Linked DNA regions of Homo sapiens. The protein of the gene in region 2 interacts with the protein of the main gene of each other region in a pairwise test. Each region holds a gene or a part of one and is shown on either strand. Other genes may lie near its edges.

What was found. Proteins that work in one complex are often made in the same cells at the same time.
Region 1: the proteins of ATXN2 (region 2) and NCOA4 interact in a two-hybrid assay, tested with the Homo sapiens proteins (one large-scale study listed by BioGRID and IntAct).
Region 3: the proteins of ATXN2 (region 2) and TDRD7 interact in a two-hybrid assay, tested with the Homo sapiens proteins (one large-scale study listed by BioGRID and IntAct).
Region 4: the proteins of ATXN2 (region 2) and KIFBP interact in a two-hybrid assay, tested with the Homo sapiens proteins (one large-scale study listed by BioGRID and IntAct).

The regions. Positions count from the first base shown.
Region 1 is NC_000010.11:46,013,624-46,017,123, reverse strand, and holds part of NCOA4 (nuclear receptor coactivator 4), read left to right. Parts: intron 1-429; coding exon of another isoform or gene 430-443; coding exon 444-584; intron 585-1,857; coding exon 1,858-1,998; intron 1,999-2,181; coding exon 2,182-2,270; intron 2,271-2,571; coding exon 2,572-2,680; intron 2,681-3,484; coding exon 3,485-3,500. UniProt on the Homo sapiens protein: Cargo receptor for the autophagic turnover of the iron-binding ferritin complex, playing a central role in iron homeostasis. Acts as an adapter for delivery of ferritin to lysosomes and autophagic degradation of ferritin, a process named ferritinophagy.
Region 2 is NC_000012.12:111,483,580-111,488,675, reverse strand, and holds part of ATXN2 (ataxin-2), read left to right. Parts: coding exon 1-200; intron 201-1,851; coding exon 1,852-1,915; intron 1,916-2,810; coding exon 2,811-2,963; intron 2,964-3,344; coding exon 3,345-3,411; intron 3,412-5,096. UniProt on the Homo sapiens protein: Involved in EGFR trafficking, acting as negative regulator of endocytic EGFR internalization at the plasma membrane.
Region 3 is NC_000009.12:97,418,596-97,422,095, forward strand, and holds part of TDRD7 (tudor domain-containing protein 7), read left to right. Parts: intron 1-3,500. UniProt on the Homo sapiens protein: Component of specific cytoplasmic RNA granules involved in post-transcriptional regulation of specific genes: probably acts by binding to specific mRNAs and regulating their translation.
Region 4 is NC_000010.11:69,002,303-69,005,802, forward strand, and holds part of KIFBP (KIF-binding protein), read left to right. Parts: intron 1-2,743; coding exon 2,744-2,823; intron 2,824-3,429; coding exon 3,430-3,500. UniProt on the Homo sapiens protein: Activator of KIF1B plus-end-directed microtubule motor activity. Required for organization of axonal microtubules, and axonal outgrowth and maintenance during peripheral and central nervous system development.

The DNA of each region.
Region 1 (3,500 bases), on a different chromosome or scaffold from region 2:
TTATTTTGAAAGTAATCAAAGATCCTTCTGTACCTTTTAGTCTTCATCTCTAAATCTACAAAGAGGAACACATGCCTCATATGACTATATGTGTGTTATAAATAGAAAATGATATTCTAATGTTCTTTTAACTTTTCAGGACACTGTATGCTCTTTGATTCAGGACAATTAGTGTATTTTTCCAGAAATAGCTATTCACATGTAAAGTGTCACTAAAGTAGATTATAGAGTTTTATGGCAGGAACAGTGGTAGAGGGAAGGGAGGAGACAATATTTATTAAGAGTATCTTATGTGCTAGGTTTGGTGTTGGAAAGTAATCTAAGTAGTTAGTAATGGGAGTTGGCTGGAATGATCATTTGAGGGATGATTCAAAGGTGGTTTTTGGTTGTAATTATGGTGCTATTTATATATATTTTTTTCTTTTAAAGGAGCAGTGAGGAGAATGAATACCTTCCAAGACCAGAGTGGCAGCTCCAGTAATAGAGAACCCCTTTTGAGGTGTAGTGATGCACGGAGGGACTTGGAGCTTGCTATTGGTGGAGTTCTCCGGGCTGAACAGCAAATTAAAGATAACTTGCGAGAGGTGTGACATGTGCTTTTCTCTTCTGTTGTCTGGACTCTTGACACAGGGCTGATTTGAGCATGGCCAAGGACTTGGTCTCTCCGTGCCAGCAAAAAATTTCACCCCATGCCTTGCGTGGTCTACTTGGTCCCCGTCAGTTGCCTGATATACTGGTGCCTTTCATCCCAAGGGGAAATAAGGCAGATGCTAGAAGAGTCTGGAAAACCCTGTGCCATTCTAGAAAATTCTATTCAGCTTACTTAGATTACTAACTACTTAGATTTTTGATTACTCCTCTGTGTGATTCCTCAGGCACTGTGACCAGTAAAAATATGAAATGAGTGAGCAGTATCCTCTCAGCTGCATCCTCTTGATTGCATGAAGGATGCACTTGAGCATCCTCCCCATCATCTTTTAGCTGGTTAATGGCATTGTTCTGTAAATGACTATCTGTTAGGGCAAGCCAGAGTGAAATCTGTTGTTGGTTCCAGTAGTATTTTGTTGTTGTGTGTGTTAGACCAAGTATTACATGACTTTGAAACACAACTTTATTAAACAGAAAAAAATGTGTTTTAAAATACAGTTTCTTATGTATATTGTCACGGATAATTTATGGCCTGTTTTGACTTTTTCCCTTGGGATTTTTATATTTAGCCCTGTTTGAATCACTGTTTATGCTTCCAGAAATATTAGTTTATAATTTTACTTAAATTGTCTACCCTAATGGTCTTTTAGCTGTTGACATGTGGTGGCACATCTCTTTACTAAATTGGCCTCCTGTAAATGGACCGCTCATTCTGTGGGGTGAGAAAAGAGATAAGGGGCTAGCTATTAAGTTAATACTCTGTCTTTATTCTGCTGATAAACTTGTAAAACCGTAGGTTTTTAAATTATGTGGAAAACTGAGGGGGTCAGTATTTCCTGGTACATTCTTGTATTTTCTCTTGATTAGGACACCCAAATTAAACCTAATCCTCTTAGAAGGCTGGGTATTGAAGAAGGATTTTAGAGTTTAGGTATGCCTTTATGGCTAGGATTCTTAAATTGGGGTCCATAGGGCTTTAGTGGGTCCTTGGGTGGGCTTTGGAACACTAAACCCTGAAATTATAGGTAAAATCTTGAAAATATACATTTTTTCTGGGGAGATACTTCATAGATGTCATTGGATAATTAAAAGGATTTGTGGTCCCCCCAACCCCACCCCCCCAAAAAAAGTTTTAGAAACTCACTATTCTTTGGGAAACATCATTCTTTGGGATTAACACTAGGAAGCTAACATGTATGTGTTTCCTAGGTCAAAGCTCAGATTCACAGTTGCATAAGCCGTCACCTGGAATGTCTTAGAAGCCGTGAGGTATGGCTGTATGAACAGGTGGACCTTATTTATCAGCTTAAAGAGGAGACACTTCAACAGCAGGCTCAGCAGCTCTACTCGGTAAGGTGACTGCATGGCTAGAATTGGTTTGAGCATGGCTTCTGGTTGCCAGAGAGTATCTTCCTTGTAATGCAGTGTTAATATAGATCAGATAGAAGTTTAATCTCAAGTGCTGTTTGGTAACTTGAGTATATCTGGTGCTTTTGGTGTCATTGTGGCTAGTTGGTTTCATTTTTCTTTTAGTTATTGGGCCAGTTCAATTGTCTTACTCATCAACTGGAGTGTACCCAAAACAAAGATCTAGCCAATCAAGTCTCTGTGTGCCTGGAGAGGTAATGACCCTTTTTGCGTATTTTAACTTTTGACTCTTGAACTTTGGTATACTAAAAGAAAGTCGATTTTGTAACTCATTGCTTGTGTTATATTTAACTTCTGTGTTGCTAGGATAAGATCATTCTGCTTCATGTATTTAATATTATACTTGCTGATACATGAATAAGCCATCTATCTTTGGTTGAGTTTCTTAGAGAAGTGTAATCATTTAAAATTACTCACAATTTGGCTTTTGTTTTAGATGAAGTTGATGAAACAGATATTCCTTAAAAATAGCCAATTTTGTTTTTTTTTCCCCAGACTGGGCAGTTTGACCCTTAAGCCTGAAGATTCAACTGTCCTGCTCTTTGAAGCTGACACAATTACTCTGCGCCAGACCATCACCACATTTGGGTCTCTCAAAACCATTGTGAGTAATCTCATATGCTTCACTGGGCACTTCTCATATCTGTGGCCTCACAGCTGGTCTTAAAAAAAATTGCTATGAATAGTGACTTTCTTGAGAATTTGATTAGCTTCAAAAATTTCATGTTCTCAGCTGGGCGTGGTGGCTCACGCCTGTAATCCTAGCACTTTGGGAGGCCGAGGAGGGCGGATCACTTGAGGTCAGAAGTTCAAGACCAGCCTGGCCAACATGGTGAAAACCCATCTCTATTAAAAATACAAAAAAATTAGCTGGGCGCCTATAATCCCAGCTACTTGGAAGGCTGAGGCAGGAGGATCGCTTCAAGCTGGGAGGCGGAGGTTGCAGTGACCTGAGATCGTGCCACTGCATTCCAACCTGGGCGACAAACAGTGAGACTCCGCCTAAAAAAAAAAAAATTCATATTCTGATTAAGTTGCCTAGGTTGGTAGTTCTTGGAATGTAGTACAGACTCAGTGATACTCTTTGGAATGCCTCATGTATCTCTCTAAATACTTTTGAAATATTTTTTGTAAAATTTATGGCTTGAATAGTTTTTAATAAAGAACGAAACGTTTGGGTCTTGTTAAAAGTGGTAATACAACCAATTCTGGTAAAGATTTTTTATATAATAGTTATGTGGTAGAGTATTCTCAAATTTGATAACTACTTTGTAAGTCATGGAATTTAGTGTGAACAGTATTTCTAATGAAATGGTAATGCTTTAACATTTTTGAAATTTGGAATTATAATTTCACTTTTTTGGCAGCATAGCATAAATAACATGATTAAATTATCTCTATTTTGTAGCAAATTCCTGAGCACT
Region 2 (5,096 bases):
AAGGATTCTTTCATTGAAAATAGCAGCAGCAACTGTACCAGTGGCAGCAGCAAGCCGAATAGCCCCAGCATTTCCCCTTCAATACTTAGTAACACGGAGCACAAGAGGGGACCTGAGGTCACTTCCCAAGGGGTTCAGACTTCCAGCCCAGCATGTAAACAAGAGAAAGACGATAAGGAAGAGAAGAAAGACGCAGCTGAGTGAGTAAACCTGGAACTTAGACCATCCTGTTACTCAATTAACTTTTTTTTTTTTAAAGGCATTTAGGTCCTTCCAACTGTGAAGAATCCATCTGGACTTTTAGACTACTTTATACATTGCCCTTAGTTTACAAACAGCTAGTCCAAACAAATGACATCTTAAGTAAATGAGGTTATTGCACCCTGTGCTACTCTTCTGTTCTTCCCCTTTTTTGTACCCCAGGGCTAGAAAAACAAGGCATAAATTAAGAAAAGTTTTTCTGTAAATGAACAGGAGTTGAAAAATTATCAATTCAGGGGACCTATCTTTACTGGATTCCACTCATTAGTCACCCTCACTGTGCTGCTAGGTTGAAAAACTGCCACTGTCAAGGAGAGAAGCATGCGGTGCTTCTACTTGGAATTCAAAATATTTTTCATCAGAAACTGTGTTTTAGTTAATGTTTAGATTTGTTAAGATAGACTTAATTCTGCACATTCAGTATATTAATTAAATGGACTTTTAGGGGCTAACCTCAGAACTTAACTACCATTGACTTAGGTGTTTGGGTACCAAACAATCCAGTTAAAGCTGAAGTTTTGGAATGCAGCTTATTGATAAATTGGGGACTGCTTATTCTTGATTTGAGGCAATTTTTTTTTACAGCCATGACTTTTTCCAGGTATGTCATGTAAAATATCTTCTCACATAAGAATTACTGCATGCTAGAATATTGGTATGTTGACTGGTAGCTCATACCTATAATCCCAGCACTCTGGGAGGTCCAAGCAGGTAGATTACTTGAGGTTAGGAGTTGAAGACCAGCCTGGCCAACATGTGAAACCCTGTCTGTACTAAAAATACAAAAATTAGCCAGGCATGGTGGTAGGTGCCTGTATCCCAGCTACTCGGGAGGCTGAGGCAGGAGAATTGCTTGAACCCAGAAGGTGGAGGCTGCAGTGAGCCGAGATCATGCCACTGCACTCCAGCCTGGGTGACAGAGCGAGACTCTGTCTCAAAAATAAATAAATAAATAAATAAAAGGATACTGTTATGTTAAGAATTGCTTTTAAGGATATTTCATAAGTAGCTACTGTCTTTTCAGCTCAAGTGTTTGTTGATTGGCCAGGCGTGGTAGCTCATACCTGTAATCCCAGCACTTTGGGAGGCTGAGTCAGGCAGATCACTTAAGGTCAGCGTGGCCAAAATGGTGAAACCCCATCTTTACTAAAAATAAATATTAAAAAAAATTAGCTGGGCGTGGTGGCAGTCTCCTGTAATCCCAGCTAATCAGGAGGCTAAGGCAAGAGAATGGCTTAAACTCGGGAGGCAGAGGTTGCAGTGAGCCAAGATTGCACTGCTGCACTCCAACCTGAGCAACAGAGTGGGACTCTGTGAAGGAAAAAAAAAAAGTATTTTTTGATTGCCTTTGAGAGGAACGGTTGTATATTACTCAGATTTTTAAAAAATTGTTCTTTTATGGCTGTATTCTTTAAGGGATTAAGGAATGGGCAATATAAGTGTATATGTTTCAATAAAAACGATTAGTGATCTTCTAGTGAGAACAGTTTAAATCTATATTTAGCAATTTTTTTTAAATTGTCAGGTATGGAAGATTTTAGAGCAACGTAAAGTCCATGTAGATTTCACTGGCCTTTATATTTTTTTTAGGCAAGTTAGGAAATCAACATTGAATCCCAATGCAAAGGAGTTCAACCCACGTTCCTTCTCTCAGGTAGGTTTATTACTTTCTTTGAGGTTATCTAGTCCCAAAAAAAGAAAAATTATTAGTAATAGTCCTTCTTCCATACCTGCCATCTGAATTTTGTTTTAGTGTGCTGAACCAACCTTCTTTCTTTTTTTTACATGGCCATTAATGAATACTTTTTAAACATTAAAAAAAGGTCTTTGTTTTGTCATCAATTAGATGTGATCTTGGGCAAATCTTTGAATTTCTCTGACCCAGAATTTGACGATGGTTGGCTAGCTAGGCTGTCAGGTTTATAGATACGTCCTCTGCACCTGAGGGTTTTGCATCACTGGATTCAACCAACCATGGATCAAAAACATAGTTAGGATAATCTATACTGAACACATGCAGACGTTTCCTTGTCATTATTCCAAAACAATACAGTAAAGCATTTACCTTGTTTTAGGTATTATAAATAATCTAGAGATGATGTAAAGTATATAGGAGGATATGCATAGGTTGTATGCGAATACTACATGATTTTATGTAAGGGACTTGAGCATTCCAAGACTTTGGTATCTTCACAGGGTACTGTAACCAATCCCCCACAGATACTAAGAGATGACTGTACTATTGTTATTATTCGACTGAGATCATAAGAAGATATATTTATTTTTAATTTTTAAAAACACTTCCATCAGTTTCTTAAAAATAGCTGCCACTGTTTTTAATATTTTTTAATTGACAAAGTTTTAAGTTCCTACTGAAACATTTTTTCTTTTATTGAAATGTGAAAATTTATGTGCTGTGTTTTTGTTTTCAATAAAAGGGACATAGTTAAAGCAAGTAAAATTAGAAAGACTGGGAAAATCCGTCTTTAAATTGCAATAATAGTTCATCTGTTACCTTGAGATAATTGAATTTATTGTTGTTTTTGTAGCCAAAGCCTTCTACTACCCCAACTTCACCTCGGCCTCAAGCACAACCTAGCCCATCTATGGTGGGTCATCAACAGCCAACTCCAGTTTATACTCAGCCTGTTTGTTTTGCACCAAATATGATGTATCCAGTCCCAGTGAGCCCAGGCGTGCAAGTAAGTCATAGAATTTGATGTTCACTTAGCCTCCCCAATTGTTTGTATCTGACACCAAGCACTCTTTAGGTTTTCAGTGACTTGAGGGTGTGATGGTTATGCATATGCATTTGAAACAGACAGGCATGCAGAGATTCAGTGTGTTGTTAAGTATGAGGACCTAAATCTGAGAATGTTTTCTGTGAAAAAGATGGTTTAGATTTACTGTAGTTTGGGGTTTGTTCCTTTTAGCTGTGGGTATGATCTAATTTTTTAATGACTAATGGAGAATCAGGAAACCTTCTCATGCCTAGCTCTCTAGCAATATAAAACTAAGAGTGACAGAATACCTTGTTATTATCATAGGTGCCTAATGTTAATTTTTTTTTTAATTCTCTCAAGCCTTTATACCCAATACCTATGACGCCCATGCCAGTGAATCAAGCCAAGACATATAGAGCAGGTAAAGGTGAGAATAATCCTGCCTGTGTTTGCTTGTAGTTTGCATGCTGCATGAATTGAGTAACTAAGTTTATAATGAATAAATAGTTGTAGTTTAGCTCTGACTTTTTGATGAGGCTATGCATTGGCTTTTGATGAACAACATTACATAGATATTCACATGGATTTTATGAAGAAAAACAGGGGAGAAAAAATGCCCATCAGTTGTGATTATATAGTATCCTCTTCAAAAAGAGTAATTGGAGGCCTGGTGTGATGGCTCACACCTGTAATTTTAGCACTTTGGGAGGCCAAGGCAGGAGGATTGCTTGAGCTCAGGAGCCCAAGATCAGCCTGGACAACAGAGACTTTGTCTCTACTAAAATTCAAAAAAATTAGCTGGGCATGGTGGCATATGCCTGTAGCCCCAGCTGTTTGGGGGACTGAGGCGAGAGGATCACTTGAGCCCAGGAAGTAGAGGCTGCAGTGAGCTGTGATTATGCCACTGCCCTCCAGCCTGGGCGACAGAGTGAGACCCCGTCTCAAACATAAATACTGGCTGGGCATGGTGGCTTATGCCTGTAATCCCAGCACTTTGGGAGGCCGAGGTGGGTGTATCACCTGAGGTCAGTAGTTTGAGACCAGCCTGGCCAACATGGCGAAACCCCATCTCTACTAAAATACAAAAATTAGCCGGACATGGTGGCACCTGCCGCCTGTAATCCCAGCTACTAGGTGGGGCTGAGGCAGGAGAATTGCTTGAACCCGGGAGGCAGGGGTTGCAGTGAGCCAAGATCGTGCCACTGCACTTCAGCCTGGGCAACAGAGTGAGACTCCATCTCAAAACAAACAAACAAACAAAAAACAAACAAACAAAAAAACCAGACTAATTGGCTGGACACAGTGGCTCCATGCCTGATATCCCAGCTGGAGGATGACTTGAACCCATGAGTTCGAGAGCAGCATGGGCAATATAGTGAGACCCTATCTCAAAAAAAAAAAAAAAAGTTAATTCCAAAGCTTTTTGATCTGAAATCTGATTTAAATCTGAACTTAAATTTGAAGAAGAGGGTTTGCTAGATTAATTTACTAGATTGCTAACCTTGCTTTATATATACCTACAGTTATTTCCCCAAAGCCAGAATTTCTTTTGAAGCAGAGGGGCAACTAACTTCAACCAATGTTAAGATCCTATTAGAAGGATGTTTCGGCTAGGCTTGGTGGCTCACGTGTAATTCCAGCACTTTGAGAGGCTGAGGTGGGCAGATCACATGACCGGGAGTTTTAAGACCAGCCTGGGCAACATGGCAAAAACCTATCTCTGCAAAAAAAAAATAGAAATCTTAGCCAGCCGTCATGGTGTGCTCCTGTAGTCCTAGCTACTTGGGAGACTGAGGTGGGAGGATCAATTGAAACCAGAAGGTCCAGGCTGCAGGGAACTGTGACTGCACCACTGGGCTCCAGCTTGGGTGAAAGAGCGAAACCCTGCCTCAAAAAGAAAAATAAGATGGATGTTTCTGCATTAAAATTAGGGAGTTGTCGTATAATGTAGTTGCATAAACTAGTATTCTGTGCTTGTGTGGTTAAAGAGCCTTCGTAGAAAAAATCCCACATTTTTCTTAAAAGGAAATCTTTTGGCCAGGTGTGGTGGCTCACATCTGTAAGCCCAACACTCTGGGAAGCCGAGGTGGGCAGATCACTTGAGGTCAGGAG
Region 3 (3,500 bases), on a different chromosome or scaffold from region 2:
GAGCAGAAATAAGGAAGATAGAAGGGACATTTCAGGGGCAGTGGTCTAAAATGGTTCTCCCAAGGGTGGAAGGAGTGGAAGGCTTTCGCAGAGGGCAACCTGTAGAACAAGCCTCTGATTAGACTCTAAGACAGGGCTGGACCTGTCCTTTCAAACCTGAATCACAGTGTTCTGTTAGGTTTTAGTAACAGGACACCCATTAGTAAAATGCATTTATCCGACATTTTTTCCCCATAAATTAATGGTTGCTGTCCACTCCTAATGTAGCTGAGAAAAGTAGACCACAGAGGGGAGGTGGCAGTGGAGCAGATGCTCTTTCCAAAATGAAGGGAAGGAGAATACCATGGAAACTCTATTCTTAAGGCAAAGGGTAAGGCCTTCTTACTGAAACTCTGGCAGGGGAATATAAAGTAGTCTGGCCAGGGAGGAGTCAGATATATTGAACAGTCTAATTTGAGTCGTTTACACTGGTCACACCCAGATGGATATTTTCCCTGGATGTGTGCTAACCACCTGACATTATATCTATATGTAATGCGTATGTAGCTGATAGCCAAGGCCCACTTAGGCATACGGATATACAAAGATGCAAAGCCCAGTTTCACTCAGAAGAGCTCTAGATGAACTGATGGGAGGGATTGGGTTTTGAAGGGAAGAAGAGCACATAGATGGGGAAGGTGGAGATCAGAAATGGATAGTCAGGGTGGATTGGCACTGAGGAGTAAGCAAGTGATGCTTTAGTATGTCCTCTTGCAAATTAAAACTTGGCCAGTCTCCACTGTTGCTTTTACTACTTGTGGAAATAACTGTATAGTAGTTCAGTGATCTTTGACTCATGAGTCATGAACCATTGTTAAACTATTTTCCGTGTCATCAGTTTACTATTCAGGACCCAAAATTCATACTTCAGCATTGACATCTGGCAACCGTGAAGTATAGGTCCCAAAGCTGTCCTCTTTCCTGCTCCCTGGCATTCATTCAGAGTGTGGACTTCAGAGGTAGTGGAGGTGTGCAGACTCTGCAGTTCTCTGTCTCTGCCATGAATTTCTATTGAGTATCTCCAGCTGTTCCATTGTCTTGGAATCCACACCAGCCCTGTGACTAAGTGGAGTCAGCTGTGGATTTCACACCACTGTTTTTTTCTTTTTTACTCTGCTTACCCTTTCTTTCCTGTCTTGTCTCCTGTTCTTAATTCTTCAGGGTTTGCTGGGTGTTTTTCCCAGTACCAGTAGACAGGGTGATATAATGGGAAAAGTGTGGCCTTTGGCATCAAACAGACCTGGATTGAAATCCTAGCTTATCTACATCCCGCGATATCTTAAGTATTTAACTTATCTGAACCTTGGTTTTCACATCTATAAGTTGAGGATAATAGCCTCCCAGCATTATTATAGATACTAGATTTTTAGAAAAGCCATTTCTCAGAATTTACATAAGAGAAATAAAAACATGTGCCTACCTAAATACTTGTACATGAATGATCAAGGCAACTTTATTTATAATATCTCAAAATTGGATGCAACCCAAATGTGTATCAACATTTGAATTGATAAACAAATTGTAGTATACCCATACAGTGGAATACTACTCATCAATAAAAAGGAATGAACTGAGTTAAATGCAGTAACATAGATGGAACACAAAGCACTAGGCAAAAATAATCCATAGTGACAGAAAGCAGATTGGTAGTTGCCAGGAGCCAGGGCAGTGTGTGTATGAACCAGAGAGGGCTGACCACAGAGAAGCATAGCTTAAAAGAACTTTTTTTTGGGGGGGGCGGGTGGGGGAGGGTGTGGTGGTTAAAGATATGCTGTACATGCAGTAAAAATCCCTCTTTATAGCCAATCACCTCCCCTTACCCCCAGCCCTTGGCAACCACTGATCTAATTTCTGTGTCTGTAGTTTCGCCTTTTCCAGAATGTTCACATAAATAGAATCATGTATGTAGCCTTTTGTGTCCAGCTTTTTCCTTTAGCATAATATAAGAGTCATGCATGTTTTATGTATCAACAGATTGTTCCTTTCTATTACTGAATAGTATTCCACTGTATGGCGCTACTAGTTTGGTTTATCTACTTACCTTTTGATAGACATTTTGATTGTTTCCAGTTTGGGGGGCAATTATAAATAATGCTGTTATATACACACACACGTTTCTGTGTGGACATATGTCATCATTTCTCTTGGGCAATAATGTAGGAGAGGACTGCTGGGTTATATAAGTGTATACTTTACTTTGTAAGAAATTGTCAAACTGGCCGGGGCAGTGGCTTATGTCTGTAATCCCAGCATTTTGGAAGGCCAGGGCGGGTGGATCACCTGAGGTCAGGAGTTCAAGGCCAGCCTGACCAATATGGTGAAACCCCATATCTACCAAAAATACAAAAAAATTAGCTGGGCGAGGTGGTGTGTGCCTGTAGTCCCAGCAACTCGGGAGGCTGAGACAGGAGAATTGCTTGAACCTGGGTGGCAGAGGTTGCAGTGAGCCGAGATCGGGCTACTGCACTCCAGCCTGGGCCACAGAGCTGGACTCTGTCTCAAAAAAAAAAAAAAAAAGAAATTGTCAAACTATTTTTCAAGGTACTATTTTGCATGCCCACCAGAAATGTATGAGAGTTCTAAATGCTCTGCTTTCTCATCAGCACTTCGTATTGTCAGTTTTTTAAAAAATTAAGCTGCTCTAATAGATGTGTAGTGATACTTCATTGTGAATTTAATTTGCATTTCCCTAATGACTAATGCTGTTGAGCATCTTTTCATGTGTTTTTTTGCCATCTTCATTTTTACTTTAGTGACATATGTATTCAGGTGTTTTGCACATTTTAAATTGGGATCTTTGTTTTATTATTGAGTTTTGAGTATTGTTTATATATGACTACCAACTTTACCACGTCTGTTATGAAAATATCTTCTCACAATCTGTGGCTTTTCATTTTTGAACAGCTTTTGGAAGAGCAGACATTTTAAATTTTGATGAGATCCAATTTGTCAATTTCTTCTTTTTTTCTTTTTGAGACAGGTTCTCACTCTGTCGCACCATGACGGCTCACTGCAGCCTCTCAGGTAGCTGGGACTACAGGCACGTGCGACTATGCCCAGCTTTTGTGTGTGTGTGTGTGTGTGTGTGTGTGTGTGTGTGTGTGTGTGTGAAGACGGAGTCTCACTATGTTGCCCAGGCGAGTCTCGAACTCCTGAGCTCAGGTGACCCATGTGCCTTGGTCTCCCAAAGTGCTGAAATTACAGACGTGAACCACCGTGCCCAGCCAATTTTTTCTTCTATGGTTCTCAAAAGTCTTTGCCTAACCCAAGGCCACAAAGATTTACTCCTGTGTATTTTTTAGAAGTTTTATACTATTAGCCTTTTCATTTAGGACCTAAATTATTTATTTTGAGTTAATTTTTTGTATATATAATATGAAGTTCATTATTTGCATATGAATGACCAGTTTTACTAGCACTGTTCATTGAACTTTCTTCATTGAATTTCCTTAGCATCTTTG
Region 4 (3,500 bases), on a different chromosome or scaffold from region 2:
GTGCCCGCCACCATTCCCAGCTAATTTTTGTATTTTTATAGAGACCGGGTTTCACCATGTTGCCAGGCTGGTCTCAAACTCCTGACCTCAAGTGATCCGCCCACCTCAGCCTCCCAAAGTGCTGGGATTACAGGCATAAGCCACCATGCCCAGCCTCGTACCTTGGCATTTTAACTTTCTTCCTGAAGTACTAACAAGAGCAGAGTGCCACAAAACCAAATAGAGATATTAGTCTACCCTTTCTTGCTTTTAGGCTCACAGTCTTATATGTGAAATTGTTAATTTAAAATGTAAGGTCTGAGGCCAGGCACAGTGGCTCACGCCTTTAATCCCAGCACTTTGGGAGGCTGAGGTGGGTGGATTGCCTGACTTAGAGGTTCAAAGATCAGCCTGGGCCACATAGTGATACGCTGTCTCTACAAAAACTAAAAAAAAATTAGCTGGGTGTGGTGGCGTGTGCTTGTGGTCCCAGCTACTTCGGGGGCTGAGGTGGGAGGATGGCTTGAGTCCGGGAGGGCAGTCCAGGAGGTCAAAGCAGCAGTGAGCGAGGATCCTGCCACTGCACGCCAGCCTAGGTAACCAAATAAGACCCTGTCTCAAAAATAAGTAAAATAAAATGTAAAAGCTGAACACGGTGACTTACACTTATAATCCCAGCACTTTGGGAGGCCGAGGTGGGAAGATTGCTTGATGCCAGGAGTTCAAGACCAACATGAGCAACAAAGCAAGAACCCGTCTTTACAAAAAAAAAAAAAAAAAAAGTTACTAAGCATCAATAGTATTTCATTAAAAATAGTATTTGTATGGAAACATAACACATATAGTGAAATTCCTTGTGTTTAGTTGTACCTCTGTTTCAGTTAAGAGACTGATTTGACTGTATTAATATTACGTATGATGTGTGAAAGCCATAACAGTGAAGTATGTACATAAAATAATATATTGATTAATTCCCCTCATCTAGACAGGGGTAAGCATGGTAAGCAGCCCTCGGAATTGTTGAAGAGTTCTCTGAAGAATTACTTATCTATTGTGTTTGCCTTGGGCCTTGCTTCCTGTCTTAGTTGTTTTTACTTTATGTGAATCCTGGGAGCCCACGTTGTGATGCTTTTAGTGTTTACATCCAGAATGTAAAATCATATTTTTATGAAAGACGTTGTTCCTTTTTGAGTTTAATGAATTCAGTTAAAAGCAAGAGTGTGTTTCTAGATGGGACTATCCTCATAGAAGTAGAATGAGGCAGAGGTTAGGTAGTTCTGTTTTGGAAGACGTAAGAGGGGGTTGTAAGTGATTTATAAATATTACTTAATCCTCATGAGATAGATACTGTTATTACCCTTATTTTATAGATGACTAAACAGAAGCACAAGAGATCAAGTGACTTGCCCAAGGCAATAAATAATGGAATCTGGTTTTAATGTCCCTGTATTGAAAGGGGGTAATACACTTTTGTTATTTCCTTGAGAAAAAAATATTAGAATAAATATTAAAATCTCTCATTTGATTTTTATTAGTGGTCAGTTTAGAATACTACTACTGTAGAAATATATACATTTTTCCTATTTGTTTTGCTTATGCATGTTTTTAAAAGAGCCCTTTTACCAGACAAAATTGCCATTTGAAATACTTAAAGAGGGGTCGGGCACGGTGGCTTACACCTGTAATCCCAGCACTTTGCGGGGGCCGAGGCAGGCGGATCATGAGATCAAGAGATTGAGACCATCCTGGCCAACATGGAGAAACCCCGTCTCTACTAAAAATACAAAAATTAGCTGGGGGTGGTGGCACGTGTCTGTAATCCTAGCTACCCAGGAGGTTAAGGCAGGTGAATCGCTTGAACCCGGGAGGCGGAGGTTGCAGTGAGCCGAGATCGCACCACTGCACTCCAGCCTGGCAAAAGAGCGAGACTCCATCTCCAAAAAAAAAAAAAAAAAAAAAAACTTAAAGAGGCTGGGCACCTTAGCTCATGCCTGTAGTTTCAGCACTTTGGGAGGCTGAGGCAGGAGGATCACTGGAGGCTAGGAGTTCAAGACCAGCCTGGGCAACAGAGCAAGACCCCCATCTCTAAATAAATAAATAAGAATTAAAAAAAGAAAAAATACTTCAAGAATTATATATGTCTAAAAGCAGATTGGTGGATTTTTTGCATATTTGCAGTTTAACTGCAACAACAGTAAAATTTTGTCAAATGTGAACTTTTGACATTTGGTTAAAACAAATAAAAGGGTATCTTTTATTTGTTTGACTCAGATTTTATGGTTAAGAAAATTACTTGTTGAGGCGGGTGCAGTGGCTCACGCCTATAATCCTAGCACTTTGGGAGGCCAAGGCAGGTGGATTGCTTGAGCCCAGGAGTTTTAAGACCAGTCTGGGCAACATAGCGAAACCCTGTCTCTACAAAAAATATAAAAATTAGCCAGGACTGGTGGTGCACACCTGTGGTTCCAGCTACTCAGGAGGCTGAGGTAGGAGGATTGCTTGAGGTGGGAGGATCGGGAGACGGAGGTTACAGTAAGCCGAGATTGTGCCACTCCACTCCAGCCTGGGTGACAGAGACCCTGTCTCAATAAATAAATAAAAATTTAAAAAACAGAAAATTACTTCTTGAGTAACATAAAAATGAACTAGGAAAAAATGAAATGTATTTGGCTTGTAGAAGTTGATTTCTCCAGGTCCTCCAGAAGAGGGCACTTGGTGTTTACAGTTTAAAACTTTAAAGAGCTTTTGTTTTTCTTAATTGTAGGTTGGGAGTCCTCCTCTTGATCCTACTGAGCGTTTTCTTCCTGAAGAAGAGAAACTTACTGAACAAGAGAGATCAAAAAGGTGAGTAGGTATAGAAATCAGCCCTTGCAAATATTTCCACATATCATAGATTAGTGATTGTTCAAAAAGTCACTTATAAAGGTTATAGAATGTGGATTCTGACAGGAGTAAAACCTCCATTTACCACTTACTTGTTATTTGACCTTGTTCAAACCTGAGACTCAGTTTCCTTATCTGTCAAATAGATACAATAAACAAATCCAACTCAAAGGGTTGGTGGGATAATCAAAATAAATATATATGAAATTTACTTATAAAACGTAAACCATGGTCCGGACACGGTGGCTTACACCTGTAATCCCAGCACTTTGGGAGGCTGAGGCGGGTGGATCACAAGGTCAGGAGTTCAAGACTGGCCTGACTATTATGGTGAAACCCCGTCTCTACCAAAAATACAAAAATTAGCCAGGCATGGTGGCAGGCGCCTGTAATCCCAGCTACTCGGGAGGCTGAGGCAGGAGAATTGCTTGAACCCAGGAGGCGGAGGCAGTGAGCCAAGATCGTGCCACTGTACTCCAGCCTGGGCAACAGAGCGAGACTCTGTCTCAGGAAAAAAAAAAAACAAGTAAACCATTACACAAATATTGGTTTATTTTTTCTTTACAGATTTGAAAAGGTTTATACTCATAACCTATATTACCTAGCTCAAGTCTACCAGCATCTGGAAATGTTTGAGA